Linked DNA regions of Homo sapiens. The protein of the gene in region 1 interacts with the protein of each later gene in a biochemical or structural test. Each region holds a gene or a part of one and is shown in the gene's direction. Other genes may lie near its edges.

Region 1 (8,750 bases):
CCAGCAGTAAGAAGGGGAGAGAGGCTGTTGGAGATTTGAGGAGAGAGGAATTGTAAGCAGTTTCTGGGAGAGTGGAAGACGGAATTGAGAGGAGAAACATGGGATCTGTAAGATGTAGAGGGCACCTACTTGAGATTTGTGTTTATAAAGGAAGACCGTTAAGAACCATCATGAGTTCTTCCTCCGCTGTGCTCTGCCACTCGGGCTGGCATGGGGTCATTGGAGAGTTGGCTGCGCCCAGGTCAGCTTTCCAGTGGAGGGAGTGGGGGTGTTTGTAGGGGAGGGACGGTGGTGTGAGCCATCTAGGCTGATGAAGAGCGAGGCAGCTGCTGCGAGCCGCAGGGAGGTGCTAGTGTAAATGGGTGGTTGGGGCATTGTTGTGGGAGGGTAAGTGGGTGGAAAACAGGAGGCATGGCTCTGAGAGCAGGATACTGACATCGCAGTTTGAAGCTGGAGCAGGTGTTGGCAGTGACCACACCTAAGGTATGAGCAGGGAGTGGGTGCTTGAGGTGGGGTGAAGTAAGACATGCGAAGTGAGGGTGGGAAGGTGACTGGTGGGTTATTGGAAGGATGATTTAGGCAGATGCTGAAGCCACTGGGAGTGACAAGAGTCATAGTGGTGCAGGGGAAGGCAGCATGACCGTCAAGATCATTAATTGCAGCCTTGTTTGGAGGAACAAAAGCTTAAAGACAATCAAAATGTCCTTTAATAGAGGACTGTCTAAATCAATTAGGGCATATTCATTCAGTAGAGTAAGATACAAGATACACAGCCTATTAAAAAGAAAGAATGAGGGAGCTTTCAGTACTGGTATAAAGTAATCAAGATATTTTGTTAAATGAAAAAAGTGAAGTTAAGCAAAAAGTACTGTACCTAGTATGCTGCTATTTGTATAAAAATAAATAAAAAGAAAGAAATATGTAATATCTGCTTGTGTGTACATAAGATGTCTCTGGAAGGCTATGTAAGAAACTGATAATGATATTTATTACCTTTGTGGAGGATAGCTGGGTCACTAGAGGTCAAGAGTAAGACAGAAACTTCATGTAGCCTTGAGCTTAGAACCTCGTAAGTGTACAGGAAAATCGTGGCACAACTCTAGGGGCACCAGTTCCTTGTAGCTTTCAGGAATGGATCCCCTGGTGTGGTTCAGTGGCCACATGGGGCTACATTGTTTATTGAAGACCAAAGAAAACAAAAAAGCTTGGCCAGTAGAATTGGTTATTATTATTATTTTATTTTTTATTTTTTGGAGATGGAGTTTCGCTTTTGTCAGGATAGAGTGCAGTGGCATGATCTTGGCTCACTGCAACCTCTGCCTCCTGGGTTCAAGCGATTCTTCTGCCTCAGCCTCCCTAGTATCTGGGATTACAGGCATGTGCCACCACACCCAGCTAATTTTTTTGTATTTTTAGTAGAGACAGGGTTTCACCATGTTGGCCAGGCTGGTCTCGAACTCCTGACGTGACGTGATCCATCCGCCTGGGCCTCCCAAAGTGCTGGGATTACAAGCATGAGCCACCATGCCTGGCCTATTATTATTATTTTCTGAGACGGAGTCTCACTCTGTTGCCCAGGCTGGAGTGCAATGGTGTGATCTCAGCTCACTGCAACCTCTGCCTCCTGGGTTTAAGTGATTCGTCTGCCTCAGCCTCCCAGTAGTTGGGATTATAGGCACCCTCCACCATGCCCGGCTAATTTTTGTATTTTTAGTAGAGCTTTCACCATGTTGGCCAGGCTGGTCTCGAACTCCTGACCTCAGGTGATCGCCTGCCTTGGCCTCCTAAAGTGCTGGGATTACAGGCATGAGCCACTGAGCCCAGCCTATTATTCTTTATCATATGTTTCTTGGAAAGCTTTTGTGTGTGTGTGTGTGTGTGTGTGTGTGTGTGTGTGTGTGTGTGTGTTTTAAAATAGAGATGCATTATAATGGTTATAATTATTTTAGTTTTCCAATCCTAAATTGTTCAACATTGGTTCTCCTGTATGTTTTTCTTTAGACGCCCTCCTGCAAAACGGCCCAACTACGTTAAGCTTGGCACTCTGGCACCTTTCTGCTGTCCCTGGGAGCAGTTAACTCAAGACTGGGAGTCAAGAGTCCAGGCTTACGAAGAACCTTCTGTAGCTTCATCTCCAAATGGTAAGGAGAGTGACCTAAGAAGATCTGAGGTGCCTTGTGCTCCCATGCCTAAAAAAACTCATCAGCCATCTGATGAAGTGGGCACATCCATAGAGCACCCCAGGGAGGCAGAGGAGGTAATGGATGCAGGGTGTCAAGAATCGGCAGGGCCTGAGAGGATCACAGACCAGGAGGCCAGTGAAAACCATGTTGCTGCCACAGGGAGTCACCTCTGCGTTCTCAGGTAAGTGTCGGTGACTTCTGGGTACATTTTGGATTATTTATTTTAATATTGAAGAGGCTACAGGATGTAAGCGTTATCACTGTTTGTTTATGCAAAATCCAAGTGAATTTATAGGCTTTCTGGAAGGGAAAGCCAGTCTTTTATATTTCATAGAGGGCTCAGGGAAACAGCTTAATAATATTTGATGTAAGGCATGATGCTAATTGATGAAATGATTTACAATATTGTCATCAATAGATCCAAGCCAAGGCAGTTTTTTTTCTGACATATTTTATGCAGTTTGAGCAAGGATTCTTTGCTTTAAATTACCAAATTAGATTTCTTCTAGTTCCTTTTGAATTATATGGATTTGTGTTAGAGCAGCAACCCATTAGATGTAATATAGTCCTAGCCAGAGAGGCTACCGGATACACTATGTTCTCCTCTCAGTATTGGTGTGGGCCAGGTTCTGCTCATCAGTGACCCTGCATTCTGTGCTTTGCTCTGATTTTTTTTTTTTTTTTTTTTGAGATGGAGTCTTGCTCTGTCACCCAGGCGGGAGTGCAGAGGTGTGATCTTGGCTCACTGCAACCTCGGCCTCCTGGGTTCAAGCGATTCTCCTGCCTCAGCCTCCCAAGTAGCTGGGACTACAGGTACATGCCACCACGCCTGGCTAATTTTCACCATGTTGGCCAGGCTGGTCTCGAACTCCTGACCTCAGGTGACCCGCCCACCTCAGCCTCCCAAAGTGCTAGGATTACAGGTGTGAGCCACTGCGCCCGGCCTGTGCTTTGATTTTTAAAAAGTGCTTATCCCTCTAGCCTTGTGCTTACTTTTCCGTATAGTAGCCTCATAATTTCCTATCATTCTTTCTTACTTTACATGTAACAGTCCCTTACAGTTCCTTTACTCATTGAAATCTTAGTGGCTCTTTATTTTCACCCTCACTGTGATTACAATCCTAGATTCTATCTCACTGTCTTGTTTTCCCTGCCTTCAACTTCTTAAATCTTTAGTCCCTGAGTTTCAGAATGGCAAACACATAAAAAGAAAAATATAAGTACTAAAATGTACTACAGTGTATTTCTAATTTTTAAAAAATTGTAGTTTTGATTCTTATATAGTATAAAAGAATCAAATTAATTCTAGCAGTGTCTAATCTTCTGATTGCATATTTTTTTCTGGAACAAAATATCCTCAAACGTATGTCTCCAACTTCATGTAGGAGTAGAAAATTACTGAAGCAACTGTCAGCCTGGTGTGGGCCCAGTTCTGAGGATAGTCGGGGAGGCCGGCGAGCTCCCGGCAGAGGCCAGCAAGGATTGACCAGAGAGGCTTGCCTGTCCATCTTGGGCCACTTCCCCAGGGCCCTGGTTTGGGTCAGCCTGTCCCTGCTCAGCAAGGGCAGCCCCGAGCCTCACACCATGATCTGTGTCCCAGCCAAGGAGGACTTCCTCCAGCTCCATGAGGACTGGCATTACTGTGGGCCCCAGGAATCCAAACACAGTGACCCATTCAGGAGCAAGATCCTGAAACAGAAAGAGAAGAAGAAAAGGGAGAAGAGGCAGAAGCCAGGACGTGCCTCTTCTGATGGCCCGGCGGGGGAAGAGCCCGTGGCTGGGCAGGAAGCTCTGACTCTAGGGCTGTGGTCAGGCCCTCTGCCGCGTGTGACGTTGCACTGCTCCAGAACTCTCCTAGGCTTTGTGACTCAGGGAGATTTTTCCATGGCTGTTGGCTGTGGAGAAGCCCTGGGGTTTGTTAGCTTGACAGGCTTGCTGGATATGCTGTCCAGCCAGCCTGCAGCGCAGAGGGGCTTAGTGCTACTGAGGCCTCCCGCCTCTCTGCAGTATCGATTTGCGAGGATTGCTATTGAGGTGTGAATGCGTGCTTGTATCCCAGCAGGGCATAGATAATACGTTATTATTGTCTGCCAAGTTCTACATGTGGAGAATCTGCTTCTGCTTTAAAATATCATGTGAAACTCCCTGGAAACAAGAATAAAAAATTATGTATTATGCAGATGATGAAATGTTTACATCATTCCAGTAATGTCATTGATTTTCATCTTTCCCTGTCCTTGCTGTAATACTTTTAAATTATTTGGCCAAAAGCTTTGTATTATGATCTCTTGGTCTGTGTAGTTGTGGCTGAAAATAATGAGAAGCTCTACGAGTTATCATCCCCTTTTTTTGTTAGAAACAAAGGGCTTGTCAGGTCTATTTGAAAAACCTCATAGTCATGTGATAAGCAACAATAGATGTTTAATGATTTCACTGTTATAGCAGAAGACAAGAGAAGACGCTTGGCCTCTGTACATGAAATATGGGCTCCTGATGGACCTCATTCAATTCTGTACTGTGATTTCCATGCCGAACAACTCAAGCCTTAAAGAGAGAAATCATGGACAACTGATTTCTGCCTGTTTTCAGGCAGGCACAGTTTATGGCGTCAGTGCTAGGCTGGAATTAGAAAGTGGGGGTCTATGACGTGGACTTCCTGACTCTTTGATCTCTTTGTTGTTGACCAACACTTGATCCTACTAGTTACTTAATTTTTTTAAGTAAAAAATTATTATTATTTTGTTTCTGCAAAGATTTTCTCAAAGCCATAGAGGAGCATTTCTCAGAATATGTTCTATGATATGTGTCACCTAAAAAAGTAAGAGATTCCAAGGTCAGGTTGATATGGAAACTCTAGGTTAAATAAAGTTAAGCATTTCTTTATGAAAGAACTTCTGGAAACTTCCATGTGATAATGTGCATTGCGGATCTCTAGGAAGGAAATGATAGTGTATAGTATTTTCTAAATACTTGTGATTCCTAAAGTTCTCTTACAAGGAGCCCTTTGTAGGACCAGTGTTCTTAGTAGCGCGCTTTGGGCAGTGTGGCTGTGTAGTGCATAGCTACCTCTGCAAGGTGATAACTAAGCCGGCAAGCTGCCTTTCAACACTCATGCAGTCACGTTGTCCACCTGAGATTCTCAACAGGGTATAAAAGGAAGGTCTCATCTTGCCTCACAGGAAGAGTGGGCTCAGTGTGGCTTTTTTCCAACTATGGAGAAACTCAGTGCTCATCTACTTTAAGTTTCCACATATGGCTTGCTCATAGCCTTGGTCCTTACCTTTCCTGCCATAACTTTCTAGAAGAGCTTAATGGGATTTTTTTTCTAAAAAATGTAAATATGCAGTTAGGCATTATTTTATGTAAATGCATTGGGTTTTTACTGTAGCATTTGGCACTAAATGGCTTTGGGGGTGATGAGGTGGGGAAGGATACAGCAGGTGGTACAGTAGTCAGGAAGTACCTGCCACCAATGAGATGTCTGATGCTTTGCCTCTTACCATGCCTCTGAATGTCTTTGGATCCAACCCAGATGAGACTGAAAAAAAAAAAACAGTGTAACTAAGTGGCATCTGTAAACAGAATAAATGAAAATGTCACCTGATGTTCAGTTGTGAATATTTATATTTATTGGACCATTCCTTATTTGTTTTCTGGGCTCTCAGTCACCTCATTTGTGGCTGAGCTCACTCGATGACAGAAGTCTGAGTGTGCTGCGTGGTCACCTAACCTCATTCTGTACAGCCCTGCCTAGGGCCTGCTGCCCCGCCCTCATTATAGGGGACAGGGCACGTTTGCAGCCACTCTGCCTGGTGGGTGGTAGGTCAAAGAGCTGCGCACCAGAAAGATAGATTAGCATTTCCCAAAATGTATTCCTGGGAGTACTAGTCCCTGCAGCTGTTCCTGGAGAAAAGTATTTTATGGCTAAATAAATATGGGAAAAGCTATATATGGTATCCTCCTATTATGATTCACAATGAATACTTGCAGAGTCAAAGCTCTGCAAAGCTCTTTAGGAAAGAAATCTGTCTTTCAGACTCCCACACACGTACCTTTTTTGGTTTTTGCATACCTATTGTCCAGAGAACACTAGTTTCACAGAAGATACGTTGAAAAACTAACAGACTCTGCAGAGGCAGTAAAGAATCCATGTTCCTTATGAAAAAGACTGATAGGGGAATGGCTTACTTTCTGGCAGTTGAATTGATTAGCGTGTTGATCTTGATCCTTCCAAGTGCCTGCCATGCTGTACTAGAGCTACATAGCTACCAAATAAGTGCAATGTGGCCCTTGTCCTCTTGTTGAGGGAGCAATGCTTTTAGGGTTCTTGAAGCATCCTGACCAACATGGTGAAACCCTGTCTCTACCAAAAATACAAAATTAGCCAGGCATGGTGGCGCATGCCTGCCATCCCAGCTGCTTGAGAGGCTGAGGCAGGAGAATTGCTTGAACCCGGGAGGCGGAGGTTGCAATGAGCCGAGATCGCACCATTGCACTCCAGCCTGGGTAACAAGAGCAAAACTCCATTCCAAAAAAAAAAAAAGAAAAGAAAAGGCAGAGTTGTGAGCTGAACACTTACAGACCAGCTATGCACTTGAGTTCTGTAAGAAACAATGGATTCCTTTTGGTGTTTATGCTCTAGTAATATTGTTCATATCAGTCATCCATATTCATCATAAAACAATTAGAAAATGAAGATGAGCAACAATAACAAAATTTAAATCACCTGGATTTTCACCATGCAATATAACTAGTTACCTTCTGTTATGTATCCTAGACGTTAAGATGTATGTGGGTAGTTTTCTTTTAATAACATAAGCCGTTGCTTATATAAAGAGCTATACCATGCAAGTGCAGCAGAGTGCATGTTACCAGTTTTTTTGTTGGTGCTTGACTGGCAAGAGCTTTAAGGATAATACTCCTTTTTTTTTTTTTTTTTTTTAAATGGGAAGTTAGTATGTAACCACCCATCATGTACTAAGTGTAGCATTGCCGTCTTGGCGGCCACATGCCTTGCGTGAGTTCTTTCTTCCCAACCAGTGGGAGGTGAGGGGGGCGGTTGACAAGCTATATGGACTCCCTCATAGTCTTAACTGGCCTACTCGTAGCCAGCCGATCTGAGGCCTGGGGAGCACAGAGATAGGTCCAGGATTGAGCTGTTTAGCAGAGAATACATAGCCTGTAGCAACTGTGGGCCACTCAAGCATCAACCCCAGTTTCACAGCGGTTCTGGTTATTATAGGCCTCCTGAGGACACAGAGGAATACAGGCACTGCCTTTTCTTTGGCAACAGCAGCTTCCAGTCTTGGCACCCTTCCCTTCCCCTCCCCTTCCCCTCTCCTTTCCTTTCCTCCCCTTCCCCTCTCCTCCCCTCCCCTCCCCTCCTCTCCCCTCCTTTCCCCTCCTCTCCCCTCCTCTCCCCTCCTCTCCCCTCCTCTCCCCTCCTCTCCCCTCCTCTCCCCTCCTCTCTTCTTCTCTCCTCTTCTCTCCTACAGTCTTACTCTGTCTGCCCAGTCTGGAGTGCAGTGTCACGATCTTGGCTCACTGCAACCTCTGCCTCCCGGGTTCATGCGATTCTTCTGCCTCAGCCTCCCGAGTAGCTGGGATTACAGGTACACGCCACCATACCCGGCTAACTTTTGTATTTTTTAGTAGAGACGGGGTTTCACTACGTTGGTCAGGCCGGTCTCGAACTCCTGACCTCAAGTGATCTGTCCACCTCGGCCTCCCAAAGTGCTGAGTTTCAAGTGTGAGCCATTGTGCCTGGCCTTTGGCTGCATTTTAGAATCACCCAATAGCCCAAGCTGCAGCCCAGAAATCAATCTTGGGTTGGGCCCAAGGATCAGTATTTATGAGCTCCCCAGGCCGTTGTGATGTGCCGCTCAGTGGAGAATCGCCGCTTTCGGAGGTCTGGCTCTTGGACCCTCTGCACCTTGGGGAAGTGTGACTGAGTAACAAGGCCATGGAAACCCAAGAACTCCTGTGCCTGTAGCAGGCCTGCTTGCCATTACGAAAAAGTACATGTCTGCAAAGTCCGCTCACACGGTCTGTTGACTGCATGGTGAAGCGTCCAGGTGGGAACGTAATGAGAGCGTAGTGTCGAGGGCTGGGTGGCCCAGAGTCAGGGCTTCCACCTGGGGAAGAGGCCTGGTAGTGAAAAAGAAAACAGCCTCATTACTTCTGTAGCCTTCTCTACTTGAGAATATCAAATGAGGTCTCTTGTTTTTCTTTTGGTGAGTATACTTCCAGACCAGCTGTTCTCAGCCTTGGCTGCACATGGGAATCACCTGCAGGCTTTCAAAGCACTGGTGCCCAGGGCCTACCCTCCTGGGATGAAGCTTTAACTGGTCAAGGGTGTGAGCTAGACTTTGGGGGTTTTAACAGCTCCCAGGTGATTTGCAGCCAAGGTTGAGAACCACTCTTCCAGACTTTAAAAATGAGGTTCCAAAATAAATAATCAAAGATGCAGCTTATCAGTAATGGGGACCCTGAAGCAGGGTGTGGGGAGCAGATGCAGCTCTCTTGAGTGGGGCACACAGCTGTGACCCATGGCCCTGGTAGGGGCCT
Region 2 (10,707 bases), on another chromosome or scaffold:
AATAAGATCCCAGAGATTTTTACACACGTTAAATTTTGAGAAGCATTCTTTTTAAACCATGTGCTTGGAACTTCTAGCATAGATGTGGCCAGAGGGTGGGATAAGAGGCATCCAAGAAAGCTTTGCTCTTAATACCAACCTCATCTTCTCCTATCTCTGAATAAGCAGTTGTTCTGCTATAAGTGTAGAAGTGTAGTTATTTTCTTTTCTTTTCTTTTCTTTTTTTTTTTTTTTTTTTTTTGAGACAGAGTCTCACTCTGTCACCCAGGCTGGAGTGCAATGGCACGATCTTGGCGCATTGCAGCCTCTGCCTCCCAGGTTCCAGCGATTCTCCTGCCTCAATCTCCCATGTAGCTGGGAATACAAGTGCAAGCCACCATCCCCGGCTAATTTTTGTATTTTTAGTAGAGACGGGGTTTCACCATGTTGGCCAGGCCGGTCTTGAACTCCTGACCTTGGGTCAGGATCCGCCCGCCTTGGCCTCCCAAAGTGCTAGGACTACAGGTATGAGCCACTGCGCCTAGTGGCGTAGTTATTTTCATAGTTAGAAAAGTCTTGGGTCTTACAGCCATACCCAACAAGAATTGATCATTTCTTTTTTTTAATCCCCCAGGTGTGATCTACCATGCATTGTCTCAGAAAGAGGCGAATGACTCCGATGTCCAGGTCAGTTCTTGGCAGGGAGTCCAGGAGCAACAGAGGTGATGGCAAAGATGGCTCAGTAGCTTCTGAGCCCCCAGCACTGATTGAGATGTCCTTTCCCACATCATACTCCTCATTTTTCTGGCAGACATCTAAGGCTGGATCAAAGTCTGTAGTTCTCATTACCTGTTCCCACGTGCCAGCCTCCTTTTCTGTTGTGCCAAAGTCAAGTTTGGTAAAATGAGGCTTTCCTTAACCTTTTATCATTTCCCACTGTGTTGGGGACACCAGGCTGTGCCCACGTGGTGGGCAGCATCATTCAACCTTGTCACTGTGCCCTCTGCACTTCTGCAGAAGGTGTGCAATCACATATCATAAGTGAAATTTACAGATTATATCTGAATGCCTCGGCCTGCTTTGTCAGTTTTGCAAAAGTTCCTCTTGTGGCTCATAATGAGAGCATTACCTTGAAAGCAAGATTTTGAAAGACCAGTATACCTTTATTTTGCTTCTCCATGAAAGATGAGCCACTCAGGTATTTAAGAGAATCAGATCATTGTCCTATTATAGTCACAATGACGAGAGTGAATTAATTTTTAGTTAGCATCTACAGGTGCAAAGCTGAAGCAGAGTTCCCACCATCATACTGTGAGCTCCCTCGAAGGCTATATGTACCCTATCTTCCCATCCCCATTGCTCTCCCACAGAAGGAAGGCTGCGTTACTATTGACAGATCAGCATCAGTCTGTCAGCCTCAGTCTTAGCATTTAGCACCTGGCTAGTGCAAAAAGAGCTCAGGAAACAGCCCAGCCAGGAGACAGGCCCTCAGGAGAGAGAACTGCCCAGGTCTGTGGCAGGCATGAGGGCAGTGGCATTGCCACCAAATGAGGAATCCGTTATTGGAACTCCAACCTGAGAGGTAGTGAGCTTGGAGGGTTTCTTTGTTTGTTTGTTTGTTTGTTTGTTTGTTTGAGAATTGCACACAATTACGACAGTCATTTTTCCCAGAAGTCCTCTCTAAGAGCCTGTGCTCATTCATGGTAAGTTGACGCCCTGCTCTCAGTGACACCCTTCAGAGAGAGCGAGCCTGGGGCCTGAGATGCTCTCGACGGTACCTTCCTCCAAGTGATGGTCTGCGGGGCGGGAGCGGACCTTTTGGAGAGTGGCCACACCATGCCCACAGAGCTGGAAACCCGGTTAAGGAGTATTGTCCTAAGGGCACAGTGTCAGGGTCCCTGCGCCCTGAGGCTTGGCCGACCCTGGAGCCCTAGTTTTGCTGTTTTCTGTAGTGTTAGGATCACTTCCTCCATAGCTTAGTGCTACTCTGAGCTCACTTTCATCTGGTCATGCCTGGTTGAATATATTTGTTATACATTTCTCAAGCTTTCTCTTCTGCCAAGGATGAGAGAATTCTTCTTCAAGATAGAAAGGTTTTGGTCCTTTCAGAATAACCTCAGAAAAGCAGGGCCAGAGCAGGAAGTGAGCGTTTGACACGCTGTTGTGTGTGACAAACGGTCATGAATTGGTGTGTGAGTGTGACTTACATCTCGGCAGCTGTGGGTAGCAGATGCATGGCGGATGAGCAGGTTGAGAGCCTCAGTAGGTAAAGGGATGGGCCCCATTTGCTCTTGCAGTAGCTGCCGGGAATGGCGGGCGGGATGCCTGGGATCCTGGGCTGCCCAGACCGGAGCAGTGAGCGCCGCACCCCCTTGTCCGCCTGCAGCCTTCAGGAGCACAGCGGGCCGAGGCCTTCGTGAGGGCCTTCCTGAAGCGCAGCACGCCCCGCATGAGCCCGCAGGCCCGCGAGGACCAGCTGCAGCGCAAGGCGGTGGTCCTGGAGTACTTCACCCGCCACAAGCGCAAGGAGAAGAAGAAGAAAGCCAAAGGCCTCTCTGCCAGGCAAAGGAGGGAGCTGCGGCTCTTTGACATTAAACCAGAGCAGCAGAGGTAACCCGAGCTCCCCACGTCTTTCTGCCCGCGGTGCTTACCCTTCTTGGTGTGTGAACTTGGCTGAGTGGCTGGGGAGGCAGCCTGGCTCCACCTAAGCTAAGGGGGCCTCTCTGTCGTCTGCCACAAGAGGGCAGCCTTCCTTTACCAATCTGGGCTGTGTTCAGCGAGGCGGGTGAGACAGGACTCATTGTCTGGCCTCTCTCCTCACCTTCAGGAGTAAGACCCGTGCAAGTACATCTGTTGCCCATGGCAACAGGCTGTTTGTCCTTCGGCTTTGTTAGACAGAAAAGAGGAACTGATATGTTTTTAGTGTGTATTACTTTGTAGCTTTTGATAGAGCCAGACAGTCACCCACTCGGGTTTCATTGCCAAAGCAAGATGTTGCCCACACGTTTCAGAAGTTTCCAAAAGGAATGCATCACTGTCCTGTCCTGTGGGAGGATGTCTTCCTCCAGCCGACCCGCCATCCCTCCTTGGTGACGGGTCTGAGTGTGGGTGTCTTGGGGCTGTCTGTAGGCTTTTGCTTGGAGATCAACGGCCAAATAGCCTCCCACGCTCCAGAAGACGCTTAAAGTATGCCATGCTGTTCCCGGCCCCACTCAGGAGATCAGCTGGGCCTCAGGTGGAGAAGGGGCTGCTGCCTCCCAGGGTTTGCCTCCCGGGTGGAGCCCAGGTTGGGTTTGAGCTTAAGGTCCTCATTTCTCTAACCTAAGGCTTTGTGGTAACGGATTCCCCACAGGATATCAAGACTGGAGATAATGGCCCAGAAGAACGCTGTTGGGGTCCTTGCCCCTGCTCCCCGCTTCTTCTCCCCACCACTTGCTTGCCCACCTTCCAGACCAGCCTGCTGCCTCACATGAGGACCTGCGTGACAACCAGCAACCCCTGCTTTACTGGGGGCTTACTAGGTTCAATTTCACGTAACAGAAAACCTCAAAATAACAGTAGCTTCAACAAGACTCACGTTTATTTCTCTCTCATGAAAAGAAGTCCAGGTGGACACCGCCCTGGGCTGGTGTGGTCCTACCAATGAGGAAACTGAGGTTAGAGAGGTGTAGGTTCTTGGTCTCGGTTATCAGCTCAATTGCTCATCGTCGGATTTGCACATAGTTCCTAATGATCCCAGGTTGCAGTTGTTGGCATCAAGTCAAGCTCTGTGCTATTTGGACATTGTCATCCCAAGCTCATGTTGTCTAACTTTTTCCCTGTTTCTGACTTTGCTGCAGATACAGCCTTTTCCTCCCTCTCCATGAACTCTGGAAACAGTACATCAGGGACCTGTGCAGTGGGCTCAAGCCAGACACGTAAGTTGCATTCCTGAAGCTTTGCTCTTTGGGGTGGATCTCAAGCCTCTGATCATTGTAAATGCGGCTTCAGGAACCAGCGTTGGTATTGCCTGGCTGCAGACGGTTAAAGACCTAGTTGCTTCTTTTGGAACTTTTTATCATGATGTAAACCAAGGGCTTCTGTTTACCCTGCAGGCAGCCACAGATGATTCAGGCCAAGCTCTTAAAGGCAGATCTTCACGGGGCTATTATTTCAGGTAATTTACCTAAGAGCGTGTAGCACATGGCCATCCAGAGGTTCACTCTGTCACTCTGTGGAGACCCAGGGCGTGTGTTCTGTTGGACACACTCTTTACCGTGTGGATTCCCTGAGATGGCCCCCAGTCACCATCATCCCCACGCTAAGGGTGGGAGATGCTTCTCGCTGGCTGTCTTAGCCAGTCCGGCCATTTGCTGGACACACCCTAAGTGGTCTCTGTGTACCTTCTCCACACAGGGACCCCTGTTGGTACCCTAAAGGGCACAGTGGCTGCGAGCACTCACCCACGGCCTGGGATCTTGAACACAGAATCCCTTTCATCCAATGCTGTGGTTTCAAATGTCAGCTACACCTGACAGCCCCCAAGGTGACATCTCCAGCGTAGGCCTGTCCCCTGAACTCCAGGCTCAGGCATCCAGCTGCCCACTTGACATAGCCACCTGGATGTTCAGGGGGCATCTCAGACTTTACATAGCCAAAGCTGCCACCGATTCTCCTCACAGCAACCCCTCCTGGTCTTTTCCATCTCAGTTAATTACTCAGTTATTTACACTGGTTGTTCAGACCAAAAACCTAAACAGTGTCTATGTTTCTTCTTTCCTAATCTCCTCGAATCCTTCGGAACATCCTACTACTTAAATTCAGCCACTGTCATTCCCCAGATTACCTCAGACACAGCTCCTCACCGCACCAGGCAGCCAGAGTGCCGGTTACGTAGAAATCAGAGCACGTTCCTTCCCTGCTTCAAGTCTTCTGGCAGCGTCCCATCGTATGGGAGTAAACCTGCCTCCTTGCTGTGGTCTAAGGCCTCCCCGCTCCCTGGGGCAGCAGGCCTCCCACACTGCCTTCCTCCTGCCCTGCCTCAGGGCTTCGCCTCTGCTCCTTACCTCTACCCGGGAGTTCTCCTGTGTGTGCACAGTCCAGCTTCTCATTGTTCAGCCCTGCTCCAATGCCACTCCCCTCAGGGTCTACCATTGCAAACCATGACCCTCCACACATTGCCCTGTCCCTACTCTTCATAGCACTCGTTGCTGTCAGAAAGTAGAATGGTGTGGTTCACCGTGCATCACCCTGCCTTGCTAGAACCCGGGCTCCGTGAGAGTAGGATCCAGGACCGCCTCTTTCCGTGCTGTGTCCCTGGCATCTCCTGAGGATGGTGCAGGCATTCCACAGCTGCTTGGTGACTCTGTCCGCTACACTGAGGCTCGGGTCAGGACGAGGGAGGGGCTGCTGCTTGTGATGGTGGCTCATCTCGCAGTGCTGGCTGCTGGGCAGCTCTGCAGCCACACTCACGTTCCAGCCAGCATCCTGGGCAGTGCATGGTGGTGTTTGTGCAGATCCTGCAAGGGAGACCTGGCTGCATCAGAGCAGCCAGCCCGTGGGCCCTGATGGTGCTGGGCACATATGTGACCTTTAATTCCAGAATCCTGCCCAAGACCCCTGTGGCCACAGACCCTCCGAAGGACACCTCATAGGAACAGTCCAGAGGCTGCAAAGCCCCAGGGGAAGCCTGGATTCTTGTTGGTTACATCAGGGCCCAGCTGTTGAGCCCCCACCCCCTGGGTGCTCTGTTCTTTCATCTGCTAGCTCAGAGGGTGGGATCAGCACCCCCAACCCCTGAGGCCTGCTTCTCTGTGGTTCCCCCAGCACCACAGAGGCCTGAGCCTGGAACTGTCCTTTTTCTTTGCAGTGACAAAATCCAAATGCCCCTCTTATGTGGGTATTACAGGAATCCTTCTACAGGAAACAAAGCACATTTTCAAAATTATCACCAAAGAAGACCGCCTGAAAGGTATGTAGGTGTTTCTGAGGGCATTGCTTGCGGGCTGTGGCTCCCAGCTACTGCGTTAGCCTTTTCCTCAAGGCTCCAAGAGTTTGATTTGACCCCTCAAGTCAGCGCAGATTGCAGATACTTGCTGAACCTGCATTAAAGCCTGCAGAGACCATCCCCTGCACCCGTGGCTCCCCCAAGAGGTGTGTGTCAGTGCAGCCTGCAACCCCGGCCAGAAATGGCCAAGGGGAAGGAAGACCTGCTCGGCTGTGCCTCAGGGGACCTGGGTCTGTTTAGGCCCCAGGAGAGGGCCTCCACCTGCCCCAAAGGCTGCTGCTCCCAGAGGAATGTAGCCAAACAGGCAGCAGGGTAGAAACAGGAGTGGCGCCTGTCCCTGGAGTTCTGAGCTGTGTCCTTGGCGATAACACTTGGGTTCCATCCGTGGCCAGCATTGCTCTAGCAGATACTTTGGGTCAGCCAGGATTTCTACACCCCGCCTTACCCACAAATCCAGAGATATCAAACCATAGTTAGAAGGTTTTGTTCCTTTAATTTTTCTTTTTTTTTTTTTTGGAGACAGTCTCACTCTTCCACCCAGGCTGGAGTGCAGTGGCACAATCTCGACTCACTGCAGCCTCCACTCCCGGATTCAAGGGATTCTTCTGCCTCAGCCTCCCAAGTAGCTGGGATTACAGGCACGCGCCACCACGCCCGGCTAATTTTTGTATTTTTAGTAGAGGCAGGGTTTCACCATGTTGGACAGGCTGGTCTCAAACTCCTGAACTCAAGTAATTCACCTGCCTCAGCCTCCTAAAGTGCTGGGATTATAGGTGTGAGCCACCGCGCCCAGCCTTCTTCCTTTAATTTTTGAGCTTGGTTTTTCTTGTTGCTTCCCTTATTTTCCTACATATCCTTCTACCTCACATTGTAAACCTCGGAAAGTGGTGTAATAGTTTCTCCACAGAGCATAAGGCCAGGAGCCCATCTGAAAGTTAATGTGGGAAAACCAGTTTCTGGCAGGTGTTCTGGGACTTTCTGGTTCTGGGAATTTGGTGTATAGCCTTTGACCCTGAAGATTAGGTGCCAAGCTACATTTAGCATGTGACTAGATTGACCTGTGGCAGAATAACCACAGGCAACCCTAATGCCCCTCCCCTTGTGGGTTTCCCGTTTCCTATTAGCTTATTTTTTTCATTCAATGTGTTCTGAATAATATTCTACCTAAAAGTAAAATATTAATAAATATTTTTCCTCATCTTTTTTTCTCCTGCCTTTTTTTTTTTTTTTTTCAGTTATCCCCAAGCTAAACTGCGTGTTCACTGTGGAAACCGATGGCTTTATTTCCTACATTTACGGGAGCAAATTCCAGCTTCGGTCAAGTGAACGGTCTGCGAAGAAGTTCAAAGCGAAGGGAACGATTGACCTGTGAATTCTTTGCCGTCTAAGGCAGTTGTTTATGACAGCTGAAAACTGGACACTCCCTAAATGTCCACCTTTCAGTGAAGAGATAGTTAAGCCAATTCCATTTATAGACCACCTCCAGCCAGTGACGCTCCGAGTTGAGGATGTTGAACAACATGGGAAGGTCGCAGCGTACTAAGTGAAGAAGTCAGAGGACAGAGGAATTTCTCTTTCTAGGAGATTTTCATTTTGTGTGACTCCCATGGGGAGGAACAGACTGGCAGGAAGCACACCGGGGTTAACACTGGTTGACTTGAATAGGATTATTCGATTTTTAAAAATACTTTTCCATGTTTTCTGAGTGCTCTATGATAAATCAGTTGCATCTGTGATAATACAGTACATATGTGGACATAAACAGGGATCAAATAAAGGAGGTATTGCTGCAGTCCAGCCAGGTTGAAAGGGAAGGGGGGTCCCCAAAGGTCCATTGGATGGCAGGTGTCTACAGAGGCTCGCCTTTGGGTGGAACTCTGACCCACCTAAGGTTTACTTTGCTATTTCAGGAAGGTTGAAGAGGATTGAAGGGTGAGTTGCTAAGTGACTTAGGGTTTATTCACTTCAGGAATCATAGCTGGGGTGGACCCCAGGAGCAGAGTACTGCATGCAGCTGTGCCCATGCATGGTTGCCCCAGCGTAGTGAGATGGGACCTGCCGCAGCATGCCCACTCCTGAGCTGCCAGGCTGAGCCATGGAGGACTGAAAGGAGGTCGCCCGGCATCACCTCCCGAGGTGAGACCTGCTGCAAAAGCCAAGCCAGCAGCATTGACGCCCTTTGATATCTTCGCCATTTTTGCTGCTGAAAGACTTGGCTTTTCAGTCTGACCCTGGCCCTCTGTGACCATGTGTCTGTAAAGCCAGTGGGTCAGGCCCTTCCATGCAGGGCCAGAGGAAAAGCGGGCCCAGGGCTGCAGTGAGAGCGGGGCAGGGGACCAGCCTACCAGATGGGTTGGAAACATGGCTCAGAAGGACCAACTACCCCTTCCCTTTGAGGAGCAAGTCTCTGCCGATCAGCAAGGCAAGGCCAGGAGCCCTCCTGGCGAAAGGCAGGCCACAAATCTGTTCTCCCCCAGGAGAAGTAGCAGTGCCAGGGCTTTGCGTTTCTGGTAACTTCCACCCAAACCACACCAGAGAGAAACACCGTAGTGGAGAAGGGAAGTGGGAGCGCTGACTGCTGTGTGCCAGGAGAGTAGAAAGGCCCAGGTCTGTGCCACCACCCCTCCCCAAAGCTCAGTGCACCCAGAGTCTCACAGGGACCAACACGGTGCCTCGGTCCTGCTTCCATCCATGCAAGTGTCCTCCGCTCACCAGGGTGTTCTGAGGCAGCTCAAGTGCTCTCCCCCAAGCAGCACGCAGTCACCGCTGCCAGTGATGAACACACGCACGGGCTAGGCACATGGAGCCCAAGCACACTGCCACCTCGGACACGGGCCCCGGCCCAGCGACTGCCTTGTGGTGTGGCCGTCCTCATCTGCCACAGGAAGACAGACTTCGAGGGACCTCTTGCCTAAGGCCTCGCTGACTCAAGGGTAGATTGAGATTTGGACCTAATAGGCTCCAGAACTGTGCTTTGAGCTACAGGGTGGCTGCAGGATGAGACGGATGCAGTTCAAAGTGCAGGATGTGCTGCCTTTATTACCTGCTTTCCCGCTGAGCAAATCCCTGTCTTGAGTGGGAAGTGGCATCTATTCCCCCAGCCATCTGAAAATGCTGTGTTCATAACCAAATAGGTGCTGTAGCTTCCTAGCCATCCCGCTCTTACCCGCCCCTCTGCAATGTAAAAGGCGTCCACTGTTGTGTAAATACACAGTTGCTTTCCAGAAAAGTTGTAGGTACCACTTGCCATGTGAAATCTGTTTTTCATTTAGCTCAGACTCAAGTTTCTGTGTGAGTGGCGGTTTAATTTGTAGATACCTCTCCCTCTCCCCCAAGGAGACATGGTGAGGGTGCTCACCGGCCACTAAGCTGCCGCTGTGCCTGCCTGTTTCTAGGATACACTGTTGCCCTCATGGCCCACCCAGGGGTCATATCTCCCAGGTAGAGGAGGGAAAGGGGAGGGCCCAGCTGGGCGGGACATGGTTCCTGATGAGGAACAGCTGCAGAAAGCATGATCTGAGGCCCAGGGGCCGTGGCAGGGGCCAGGGCTGCCATGTCTCCACAGGCTGCGGCACAGCTTGTCATGGAGGGTAATGTGGTGCTTTTTGGCCCGATCTCTCCCATGTCCACTGTCCAAGGAGCAGGACCCTGGCAGAGCTGAGGCCTTGGCCATGTGGTCCCACGGGAGACAGAGCCACATTCGACTTGTGTAAGCCTCCATGCACCAGAGAAAGTGCCAAAGAGGAGAGAGTGGTTAGCAACTCAGGACAGGACCCAGAGGCTGCAGGACTGGGAGACATCAGCCCAGCGACCCACTGCTCAAAGAGTGGGGCCCAGGGGCCCTTTACATCTTCCCAGTGCCCAGCTGCCACACAGGGTCTGCAGAGGATAGGCCAGAGCCTCGGGGGAAAGGATGAGGTTCTTGGAGGAGAAAGGACAGCGAAAGGACAGCGTGGGCCATGGCTGATGTATCCATCTGCTCTAATCTTCATAACAAAATGCCACACACTGGGGCTGCAGCATTTTCTCACAGCTCTTGAGGCTGGAAGCCAAAGATCAAGGTGCTGGCAGGGCTGGTTTCTGGAGAGGCCTCTCCCTTCTTGTCCTCACATGGCCTTTCCTCCCTGTGTGCAAGGAAAGTGATCCCTCGGGTCTTTTCCTTGTAGAAGGACGCCAGTCCTATTGGATCAGGCCGTGTTCTTATGAACTCGTGAAAGTCTCCAGACAGTCACAGTGGGGGCAAGGGCTTTATCATATGAATTTGGAGACCCAAGTCAGTCCACAGCCACCCCGAAGCTTTCCCAGCCAGGACAGCCTGGTTGTGCCTCCCAGAAAGACTCCAACAGCTACCTGACTCCCAACCTCAGACACTAGCCAGGCCTTCTCTTTCCCCCATATGGGCTGCTTGGACCACTAGCCAGTCCAGCCAGCCCCAATGCTGGCCCCTGAGCTGCCATCACCACTGGATTCTGTGACATGCTCATACAGGAACTTGGGTCCAGGGCTGCTCCCTCCAGTACCCGGGGCCCCTGAGCTGCCCAGTTCCCCTTCACTTTTGCAAACAGCTGAACTCCTCCTCCCGCTGGGGCCAGGCACAGTCTGGATGGGGGAGGAAATGCGTGTGCAGGTGGGCAGGATGGGCAGAGAAGTCTCCCTGGAGCAGGGGCTCCGGCTCTAGGCAGCTGTGGGTGTGAAGAGTGTATTCACACCAAGGCTCAGGGCAGGAGCCCGCAGAAGCATTG
Region 3 (11,205 bases), on another chromosome or scaffold:
GCTGCGGGCAGAACCCGGTCTGTGGTGTTTCAGCAGGAAATACTGCACTGAGTTCAGGTATCAGTCCATATCTTCAGCTGAGACATTCTGGAATTATCGTCACTGTAAGAATCCAGAAGAGGAGAGGGATGGACGCTACATTGTTCTCTGCTTTTTTCTCTAAATCCAGAATGTTCTTTTAAGACCTCTTTTGAAAGTATTTTCTTCTCCTGGGTTGCCATTCCCCATCTCATTGCCTAGCCATGTGTGTCTTGTCTTGAGATGCAAGAAGGGGCCAGGCGCGGTGGCTCACGCCTGTAATCCCAGCACTTTGGGAGGCCGAGGTGGGCAGATCACTTGAGGTCAGGAGTTCAAGACCAGCCTGGCCAACATGGCAAAAACCCTTCTTCTAAAAATACAAAAATTAGCTAGGCATGCTGGTGGGCACCTGTAATCCCAGCTACTTGAGAGGCTGAGGCAAGGAGAATTGCTTGAACCTGGGAGCCGGAGGCTGCAGTGCGCCAAGATCTTGCCACTGCACTCCAGCCTGGGCAACAGAGTGAGACTCTGTCTCAAAAATAAATAAGATAAAATAAAATAAAATAAAATAAAAACCATAGCATGAGTTTCAGAATAGGTTTTTCTTTTTCTATAAAAAAAATCCTTTGGGATTCTGATAGGGATTGCATTGAATCTTTAGTACTGTCACGATGAACATTTCTTAACCCTGGCAGTGCATTCAATTACCTGGGGAAAAAAAGATACAAACCCCAGTCTGATCCCTAATTCCCACCACCATTTTGATGTAATGGCTGTAGGGTTGGACCCAAGCCTCACGAATGGTGCATCCATGGTTTTGCTCTCTTCTCTGCAATGACAATTTAGCTCTCCTTGGCTGAACAGTACATGTGGTCCTCCGGGATGGACCAGGTCCTGCTGACCTCTTCAACCACATCTCTCGCTATTTCCCACAGGCATGGATGCTCTACCCCAGGTAACTGAAGGACTTCAAGTTCCCTTTCTCCACGTTGGTAGATAGTTGCCACTCCACTGTCTGGCACACCCTTTTCCTTCTTTTCTTTTTATTTTCTTTTCCTTTTCTTTTCCCTCCCTCCCTCTCTCTTTCTCTCTTTGATTTTTTCTTTTCTCTTTCTCTTTCTTCTCTCTCTCTTTCTTGTTTTTGAGACGGAGTCTCAATCTATCACCCAGGCTGGAGTGCAGTGGTGACATCTCAGCTCACTGGAACCTCCACCTCCCGGATTCAAGTGGTTCTCCTGCCTCAGCCTCCCTAGTAGCTGGGATTACAGGCGTATGCCACCATGCCCAGCTAATTTTTGTATTTTTAGTAGAGATGGGGTTTCGCCATGTTGGCCAGGCTGGTTTCAAACTCCTGACCTCAAGTGATCCACCCGCCTTGGCCTCCCAAAGTGCTGGGACTACAGGCGCGAGCCACCATACCTGGCTCCTTTTCCCACTTTCTTAACAGCCAACTCCTCCTTCAAGACTTAGCCGACATGGCAACACCTCCAGGAAGACTTTGAGACAAGAAATAGCTTTAGCCTGGTCTTCTCGTCTATGAGCCTCTGGCCATCTCTCTCCGTCTTTCTTCTGTTCTCATTCTTACCTGCCTTCAAAGGGCTTCCGCTCCACTTGGCCTCCCGGCTGTTCTAACAGGCCTGTCGCACTGCTGCTCTCCCGTCTCTACCTCAGAATTATCTTCCCAGGGTCGGCCTGGCTCAGTGCTTCCACTCCTCTAGGTCTTTGCTCATCTGTCATCTCAGGAGGCCTTTTATCACCCATCCTAGCACCCCCTTCCACTCTTACCTGCTTTTTCGTGTTGCTTTTGTTTTTTTCTGAGATACAGTCTCACTCTATCACCCAGGCTGGGGTGCAGTGGCATGATCTGGACTCACTGCAACTTCTGCCTCCCAGGTTCAAGTGATTCTCCTACCTCAGCCTCCCGAGTAGCTGGAATTACAGGTGTGCGCCACCATGCCCAACTAATTTTTGTATTTTTAGTAGAGACGAGGTTTCACCATGTTGGCGAGGCTGGTCTTGAACTCCTGACCTCAAGTGATCTGCCCACCTTGGCCTCCCAAAGTGCTGGGATTACAGGCATGAGCCACCGCGCCTGGCCTTCCCTGCTTTTTTTCTGTAGCACTTTGAATCATCTGACAACTTAAATCGTTTACTTTGTTTACCGTTTCTCCTCCTTTAGAACTCTGGCTCACCACTTTATCCCCAACACTTAAAATTCAATGAATATTGTACCTGTAGGAAAAGGCGGGGGGGGGGGGAAGAAAGGGAGGAGGGGGATAAAAAGGAAGGATTAAATGTCTTTCAAATTTCCCCGTTTTCATAAAACAGCACTGCTGAGACCCCTGACAACCTTGGACATCTCCACATAGCCACAGAGCCAAGGCCTGACTGCGGTCTACCCTGAGTCCTCGCCGAATGCCTGTGATTTCCCTGGGAGCAAGGCAAGGCTTCCCTTTTTTTTTTTTTTTTTTTTTTGATTGAGTGCAGGAAACTTTATTGATGGTACACGACAAGGTGAGGCTCCCATGGTGTCTCCCTCTTCAGGGCGTCTGCGTGGAAACTGTGAGGAGGGGAGATTCTCAGTGGGGGCGGGGGCTGAGTGGGGCAGGGACTCCGCAGCAGTGAGAGCCTCTCTCGTCCTCTCGTGCTCTCACTGGGGCTGGTGGTCCGGGGGTCTTACTCCTTGGAGGCCATGTGGGCTCCGCCACCCTGTTGCTGTAGCCAAACTCACTGTCATATCAGGAAATGTGCTTGACAAAGTGGTCGTCGAGGGCAATGCCAGCTCCAGCATCGAAGGTGAAAGAGTGGGTGTCACTGTTGAAGTTGGAGGAGATGACCTGGTGCTCGGTGTAGCCCGGGATGCCCTTGAAGAGCCCTCTGAAGCCTGCTTCACCACCTTCCTGATGTCATCCTATTTGGCAGGTTTTTCCAGATGGCAGTTCAGGCCCACAACTGACACGTTGGCAGTGGGGACACAAAAGGCCATGCCAGGGAGGTTCCCATTCAGCTCAGGGATGACCTTGCCCACAGGGCTTCCCTATCTTGTGGGAGAGTCTCACAAGGCTGTTTCTCATCCATGTCCCTAGTTTAGTTGAGACTAGGGCTTTCCATCTTCCCCTTCTTTCTCCGCACCCCCTACAACCTGCTCCACTTTAGGATGGAGCCGCAGGCTTCTGTGTAAATCTGTAGAACTGCTTGCTGAAGTTTAGTTTGTTCCTCGACAGAGTGACCCACCACTCATAAGACCTGTCATCTGACCTCTGAGATTGGGAATGCTGTCCCATGGGATTAGAGATGCAGGGAGCTGACATCATGTTGGTCTTGATTTTGCTGTTTTGTGAGACCTGCGAATTGCTCAACTGCTTGAAACTCCTCACCTTCACTTGTCTCTATGGACACAGATATTCTTTGGAGTACTATACCGTTCCAATTAGTAAAGCTTTCAGTATTCATTTTGCATCTCATCATTAAAGTTTATTCTTAGTAACTGATTTAAAATAATGAATTGTTTACATAACAACTACTGTTACATAACACACACACACACACACACACACACACACACACAAACACACACACACAGCTAAGGTCAGAATACCATGGAGGAAAAGAAGAATCTGGTGGTCAATTCCCTTACATTCTTCTATTGACAAATTTTCTTGTTGGGACCTTCACTTATTTCATCAAAGGATTGTGGCTAATGATCTAATTTATTACTCAGAATCTTTTTATTTATTTGTTTTGGAGACAGGGTCTCACTCTGTTGCCCAGGCTAGAGTGCAGTGGTGTGATCATAGCTCACTGTAGCCTCCACCTTCTATGCTCAAGCAATCCTCCTGCCTCAGCCTCAGGAGTGGCTGGGACTACAGGCACACACCACCATGCCCAGCTAATTTTTTTTTTTTTTTTTTCTGTAGAGACGGGGTTTCGTCATGTTGCCTAGGCTGGTCTTGAACTCCCGGGCTCAAGCAATCCTCCTGCCTCAGCCTCCCAAAGTGCTGGGATTACAGGTGTGAGCCACCACAGCCGGCCATCACTCAGAATCTTAAGTCATTGTCAAATAATGGAAAGCATACAAATCAAACAGTAGTCCAATTCTAGAATTAATATAAAAAGAAAGCTCTAATATACAAAGACCAAACAGATTTTACAGGATAAAACAACTGTCATTAAAAAGTAAAACTGGCAGGTGTGGTGGTGCACATCTGTAATCCCAGCACTCTGGGAGGCCAAGGTAGGAGCATTACTTGAGCCCAGGAGTTTGAGACCAGCCTGAGCAACATGGCAAGACCCCGTCTCTACAAAAAGTACAAAAATTAGCCAGGCATGGTGGCATGCTCCTGTAGTCCCAGCTACTCAGGAGGCTGAGGTGGGAGGATCACTTGAGCTTGGGAGGAGGTTGCAGTGAGCTGAGATGGTGCCACTGCACTTTAGCCTGGGCAACAGAGCAAGACCCTGTCTCCAAAAAAAAAAAACCGTTTCTTCAGAATAGGATATCAAATATGTAAAGTAATAATTTGAGAAACATGAAAAAGCGTTATGTGTAAAGAAAATCAGAAGACTTAATCTGTATTAGTTTAATGTAAAAGCATGCACATATGTGAAACAAAGTAGAAGGGAACACTAAAGAAAAAAATGGGTGTGATTGGGTCATGGGAGAATGTTTTTTACTTTTTGGTTGTAATGTTTGTGTGATACAAGAGGGACAGAAATTACTTTCGAAATGTACTTGTTAATTTTAGCAAAATCCTCGTGGAAATTATACTGCTAGTTTTAAAATAAAACACAAGCACTAAAATAATAAAGGTTATGTTTCATTTTTATTAACTTAGTTTTGCCACGGTTGAGACTGGATTTGCCATAGTTCAATTTATCAAGCACTTAACTATGTGTTCCGCACATAATAATCATCTTAGCATAGAGGAACATGTCTTCTAATCCGCACAAGAGATACTATTTTTATCACGTCATAGAGGAGGTTAATAAACTTGCCTAGGTCATAAGATCTTCAGTTGATGAAGTTAGGATTTCAACCCAGAGCCAAGTAATGTAATGGCTGATGTTTTCCACAGAGAAAATGTAAGCCGAGATGATGCTCAAACTATAAATCTGGAACCTTAGGGGGACAAAAACGTATGGATGTCTCCTTCCCATTACTTTAGCATTTTAATTAGATTCCTGTGTCTCTATTTGTCTTTGGAAATGCAAGCTGCTTGCAGTTCATCATAGCTAACTCACACAATTCATTTTATGAAACACAAACCTGTTCTCACAAACTCACTGTCATCTCTTTTTAATCTTTCTAATTGTGATAAAAATCATACTGCACTTTACCCTGTGTAACCTCCAATGATCTTTGACCAAAAGCCAAATCTTTTTTTTGTTGTGTTTACTTATGGACAGTTAGGTTCTACATAGGTACTTAAACATGAAAATTGAAATCATAGAGGCTGGGCACAGTAGCTCATGCCTGTAATCCCAGCACTTTGGAAGGCCGAGGTGGGCGGATCACCTGAGGTCAGGAGTTCGAGACCAGCCTGACTAACATGGTGAAACACCGTCTGTACTAAAAATACAAAAATTAGCTGGGCTGGTGGCCCGTGCCTGTAACCCCAGCTACTCCGGAGGCTGAGGCAGGAGAATCACCTGAACCTGTGAGGCGCTGGCTGGAGTGAGCCAGGTTCGCGCCATTGCACTCCAGCCTGGGCAACAAGGGCAAAACTCTGTCTCAACAACAATAATAATAATAAATAAAAGAAAGAAATCACAGAAACTATACCAGAAAATAGGATACAAAACCAACAGTGAGGAGATTGAGAAAAGGAGGCAGATACGTAAAGAGGAAAAGGAAGGGGGCCCAAGTAAGGCCGGAAAAAGCGGGGAGAAGGAGGAGGCTCATTAGGTCAGAAGCAACCTGCCGTCTTCTAAGTTCTGGCCAAGGGTAGATCAACAGATCCAGATTCCTGAGCTTTAAAATGTTATTCGGCCGCTTCATCACTTGTCCCCGACTTTGCAGCGACTCCGATGGTAGCCTGAGTCTCCATTGCTTGGAGCAGCCACAGTGGACACTGGACGGGATATTCTGTGCAGCTGTTGCTGAACTCAAGGCAACTCTTACTGCCTTTCTCTTTTCGGGCTCAAGATTCCCTGCATTATTGCCCATAGGCATGTGTTTTACCCCATACTCCTTCTCCCTTTTATCTTGATTTTCGCGGTGCTGGGGAGTCTGCAGGGATTCCATGGCGACGGGCTCACTGGGACAGGGGCTGGGGTTGTGCGTCCCTGAGGCAAGGCAAATACAGAAAAGCGAATAGAGACAGAGGGCTAAGATTCCAAAGCACTGAAAGGTAGAAACTGGGTTAGAAGAGAGAGGGGAGCACAAACGCCCGGAGAGAGCGAGCCCTCGGGATACCATTGGCTATAGGCTGGCCTCCGAACAACTGGACGGTCCAAGTCCTGAGCGTCTGGTTACCCGGGCAACCGCATGGTCTCGCGATACATACCTCGCGCCTGCGCACTGCCCCTGTAGCGGGGGTGGGGGGACCCGGTCCGGAGACTCCACCCCGGGGCCTAAACTCGAGTCTAAAAGATTGGGCCTCGTTGTGTCGTTTCCGGGTCGCGCGACGCTGTGGGCCGCTTTCCCCTCTCCGGAGTGACCTAACACAGGATAACGAAACCTGCACTGCTCCGAGCGCTTCCTCCCCGGCCCGTCGCGTCTGCGAGGCGAGGCCGGGAGGCGAGGGCTCTGCGCACGCGCGGCGCAGGCGCACTGGGCGCCGGTGCTGTTGCCTTCAGGTGACCACGGATTCGCCATCGTGAGTTCCAGGTGGGCGCGCGGGGCCCACGTAGGGCAGGAGGCCAGCCCCGGGGGGATCGGGCCCGGGACTCTGCGGAATCTGGAGGCCGAAGCCCGCGCGCACGCAGGGTCTCTGCTGCTTCCCCAACGCCTGTTGCGTGGCCGCAGGACCCGCCGCCCTCCCGGTTGGGCCGCCCAGTCCCGGGCCGGGCGCGTGCACCCAGAGCTTCCGCGTTTCTAGTCCGGCTCCTCTGCTGGATTGCAGCGCCGGCTGGGCACCAGGAGTACAAAGCGAAAACCCCCGCCGGCCCTTCTGTTCTCCACGGTCTCCAAGGAGACACGGACAACAGAACAACACTTCCGTGTGCTAAATAGTAAAGCACCAAGGTACTCGATCCAGGGGCGGCGTGCAGTGGGGAGGTGAGCTTTGGGTCGGCCGTCGCCCCTCGGCTACCGGCGGGATCCAGAAACCGGGAGTCACCACCAATACCGTTCTCAACTTTACTTCCAGCTGGTCACTACTGTGTCGGGAGATTCTACCTTCTTTTCCGACTAACATGTATTTTTCTCCAGTCCTTTCTGCGGCGTCTCTAGTGCAGGCCACCGTCATTTCTAACCTGGACGACTCCAGGAGCGTCTTTGCTGCTCGGGGACTCTTCCTTTGCCCAGATCCACAAAGATCTATAACGTCTTTCTAATCACGACACCTCTGCTTTAGATGTTAAAGTTGCTTCACACTGGAACGCTTGCAAAGGTCTTCATTATCTGGTCCTTACCCACCTTTCCTAGTTTCTCACCGCTTTCTCTAGCATCTCTGCCCCAGCCACATTGAACTTATTTGAACGTGTTTTTTTTTTTTTTTTTTTTTTTGAGACATAGCAGTCGCCCAGGCTGGAGTGCAGTGGCGCGATTCCGGCTCACTGCAACCTCCGCCTGCCGGGTTCAAGCGATTCTCCTGCCTCAGCCTCCCGAGTAGCTGGGACTACAGGCGCCTGCCACCACGCCCGGCTAATTTTCGTATTTTTAGTAGAGACGGGTCACCACGTTGGTCAGGCTAGTCTCGATCTACTGACCTCAAGTGATCCGCCCGCCTGGGCTTCCCAAAGTGCTGGGATTACAGGCGTGAGCCACCTCGCCAGCCAACTTATTTCTTTTAATACTGAGATACCTTTCTTTACTCCATACTTCCTTTGGTAGGCATTGTTTAGATGTAGGTTAAGAGGTCCGGCCCGGCGCGGTGGCTCACGCCTGTAGTCCCAGCACTTTGGGAGGCCGAGGCGGGCGGATCACAAAGTCAGGAGATCGAGACCATCCTGGCCAACATGGTGAAACCCCGTCTCTACTAAAAATACAAGAATTAGCCGGGCGTGATGGCCCGTGCCTGTAGTCCCAGCTACTCGGGAGTCTGAGGCAGGAGAATCGCTTGAACCCTGGAGGCGGAGGATGCAGTGAGCCGAGATTGTGCCACTGCACTTCAGCCTGGCGACAGAATGAGACTCCGTCTCAAAAAAAAAAAAAAAAAAAAAAGTTCCTCTGTGAGGACTGCCTTTTCCCACCCCCCTCAACTAAGCTAGGCCTCTGCTGGATGTTCCCTAAGCATACTGTTCCCTGACCTTCATGTGCATCAGGCTTTATTGTATAATTACTTGCTAATATTTTTTCCTCGTGGACTCTAAGCTCATGAGGTCTGTGAGAAAAAATACTTAATCTTTATGGCCTGGCACATCGTGGATAATCGATAAATATTTGTTGAAGAAAGGAAGGGGCCTGCGGCTGAGGGTGGGAGTGGTATTCCAGGCAGAGGGACTAATGTGTATAAAGACTTGCAGGTGGGAAAATGCTGGCCTCATTAAATAGTATGTTGTTCGGTGTTGAGGACTTGTGCTTGGTGGGGCCTAAGGAGAAAGAGGGCCTAAGTGGGAGATTGAGCTGGAGTGTGGAGGGCCTTTTATGTCACATTAGAGTTTAGGCGGGGCATGGTAGCTCATGCCCTCAATCCCAGTACTTTTGGGGAGGCCGAGGCTACGGGATTGCCTGAGCCTAGGAGTTGAAGACCAGCCCAGGCAACAAAGCAAGACCTTGTCTCTATAGAATTTCTTTTTTTTTTTTTTTTAAGACGGAGTCTTACTCCATTGCCCAGGCTGGAGCACAGTGGTGCAATTACGGCTCATTGCAGCCTCCGCCTTCTGGGTTCAAGCAATTCCCCTACCTCAGCCACCCACCTAAGTAGCTGGGATTACAGGTGTGCACCAGCACTCCTGGCTAATTTTTGTATTTTTAGTAGAGACTGGGTTTCACCATATTTGCCAGGCTGGTCTCGAACTCCTGACCTCAAGTGATCTGTCCAGCTTGTCCTCCCAAAGTGCTGGGATTACAGGTGTGAGCCACCGTGCCCAGCCTATACAGAAAATTTAAAAATTAAAAAAATTTTCTGGGCTTGGTGGTATGCGCCTATAATCCCAGCTATTCAGCATGAGGCTGAGGTGGGAGGATTGCTTGAACCCAGAAGTTCAAGGCTGCAGTGAGCCATGATCGAACGACTGCACTACTGCCAGGTGACAGGGCAAGACTGTCTAGTAAAAAGAGTTTGCCCTTGATCTACAGGCAGCAGAGGCCTCTTGAGACAGCTCTAAAGGGCCCTCAGCAAAGCCTATTTTTCTCTCTTTCTCTAAAGCTATAAAATCTTATCAGTCAGTACTTTGTTTCTGGATTATATTGCGTGAGATTATGCTTATCCAGACTACTTGGCTCTCTTTATCGCCCCAGCAGATTCTGCAGGTGGGACAAGTTTATAGCCTGTTTTGTGATCCCTCTGGAGCATGATTTTAAGTATTTATTCTGTGGTGTTTGGATGTGGAGACATCATCTGACTTGCAGTTGGCAAGAGCTCTGCCCCATCCTATTTGTTTCACCCCCTGTCACTTATTTCCCTCTTCCTGACCACTTTGAACCTGATGCCAGCCCCTCACAGTCACTGCATTGCATCTGGATGAGCCACTTTTCTTCCTGATTTCCTGAGCTCTAGGGGAGCATAGAGATAATGGGGTCAGGGGACACAGTGTGGCCACCGTGAAGGAAGCAGCTTAGGCCCCAGAAGTCTCCAGGATTGCTGTACCGAGATGACCAGGGTGTGATCTCTCACCCTAAGGAGCTGAATTTGGCTTTTCTGTGGGAAAGTGTCTGGGAAGAATATCAGAGACCAATAGCGCTCAGGGGGCCCTTTCTCGGGGCTGTCCAGTGTGGAAACACCCTGTCCTACACCAGTGGTTCCTGATTCCGGCTCTGAATCAGATTCACGAGGGCAACTTTTTTTTTTTTTTTGATATGGAGTCTTGCTGTCGCCCAGGCTAGAATGCAGTGGCGCGATCTTGACTCACTACAACCTCCGTCTCCTGGATTCAAGAGATTCTCCTGCCTCAGCCTCCAAGTAGCTGGGATTACAGGCAGGCACCACCATGCCTGGCTAATTTTTTTGTATTTTTTAGTAGAGACGGGATTTCGCCATATTGGCCAGGCTGGTCTCGAACTCCTGACCTTATGATCCGCCCGCCTTGGGCTCCCAATGTGCTTTGGTTACTGGCGTGAGCCACTGCACCCGGCCTGGGGCAGCTTTTTATAAGCACAGATGCCCAGGCCTTATTATTGAAGATTCCAATTCAGTAGATCTGGGTTGAGGACCAAGCATCTGCATGTTTTAAGAAGCCACAGGTTATTTTTGAGGTGTAGCAAGGATTGAAAGAACAGAAAACTTGGATTTGGAAAACTAGTTGTGACTTTAGGCAGTGAGTCAGTTTCCTAATGCACACATTGGGGGATTCTATAGGAATGCTGTAAGAAGCAAATAATACATGGAGAGAGTGCTTTATACAGCGATACACTGCACAGACACACTTGCCTTCAACATCAGCTGCCAGCCTAGTAAGTGGTAGTATAAATGCAAAGGATATAACTTCCTTTAGTTTTGCCAGGTGGGTCCCTGTGATTCTAGCTGAGCCCCAGGAAGGAAGGGAAGAAAACTGAGGGAAGAGAAGGGAGTGTGTAGTTGCCTCTGGGAAGGATAAAAGGATATGCCCTCTGGACCAATAGTTTATAACATTTTCCCCATTAAGCATCCTTCTACTCATTTTTCCTCAATGGATTAGTATCTTTAAATTTCATTACATTTCCCTAGTCTTCATGGAATTGCCAGCCAGAGAAGTCAGCTCGGGGTCCCCCTAAAAAGGAGGACTGGCCGGGAGTGGTGGCTCGTTCCTGTAATCCCAGCACTCTGGGAAGCTGAGGTGGGTGAATCACCTGAGGTCAGGAGTTCGAGACCCGCCTGGCCAACATGGTGAACCCCATCTCTACTAAAAATACAAAAATTAGCCAGGCGTGGTGTTGGGCACCTATAA

What was found.
Region 2: the proteins of POP1 (region 1) and POP4 form a complex in vitro, tested with the Homo sapiens proteins (one study listed by BioGRID).
Region 3: the proteins of POP1 (region 1) and RPP38 form a complex in vitro, tested with the Homo sapiens proteins (one study listed by BioGRID).

Annotation. Positions count from the first base shown.
Region 1 is NC_000008.11:98,154,049-98,162,798, forward strand, and holds the end of POP1 (ribonucleases P/MRP protein subunit POP1), read left to right. Parts: intron 1-2,001; coding exon 2,002-2,364; intron 2,365-3,568; coding exon 3,569-4,223; 3' UTR 4,224-5,787; downstream 5,788-8,750. UniProt on the Homo sapiens protein: Component of ribonuclease P, a ribonucleoprotein complex that generates mature tRNA molecules by cleaving their 5'-ends. Also a component of the MRP ribonuclease complex, which cleaves pre-rRNA sequences.
Region 2 is NC_000019.10:29,608,044-29,618,750, forward strand, and holds the end of POP4 (ribonuclease P protein subunit p29), read left to right. Parts: intron 1-613; coding exon 614-666; intron 667-2,365; coding exon 2,366-2,589; intron 2,590-3,818; coding exon 3,819-3,896; intron 3,897-4,073; coding exon 4,074-4,135; intron 4,136-5,827; coding exon 5,828-5,929; intron 5,930-7,200; coding exon 7,201-7,337; 3' UTR 7,338-9,194; downstream 9,195-10,707. UniProt on the Homo sapiens protein: Component of ribonuclease P, a ribonucleoprotein complex that generates mature tRNA molecules by cleaving their 5'-ends.
Region 3 is NC_000010.11:15,090,566-15,101,770, forward strand, and holds the start of RPP38 (ribonuclease P protein subunit p38), read left to right. Parts: upstream 1-6,789; 5' UTR 6,790-7,201; exon of another isoform or gene 7,202-7,568; intron 7,569-11,205. UniProt on the Homo sapiens protein: Component of ribonuclease P, a ribonucleoprotein complex that generates mature tRNA molecules by cleaving their 5'-ends. Also a component of the MRP ribonuclease complex, which cleaves pre-rRNA sequences.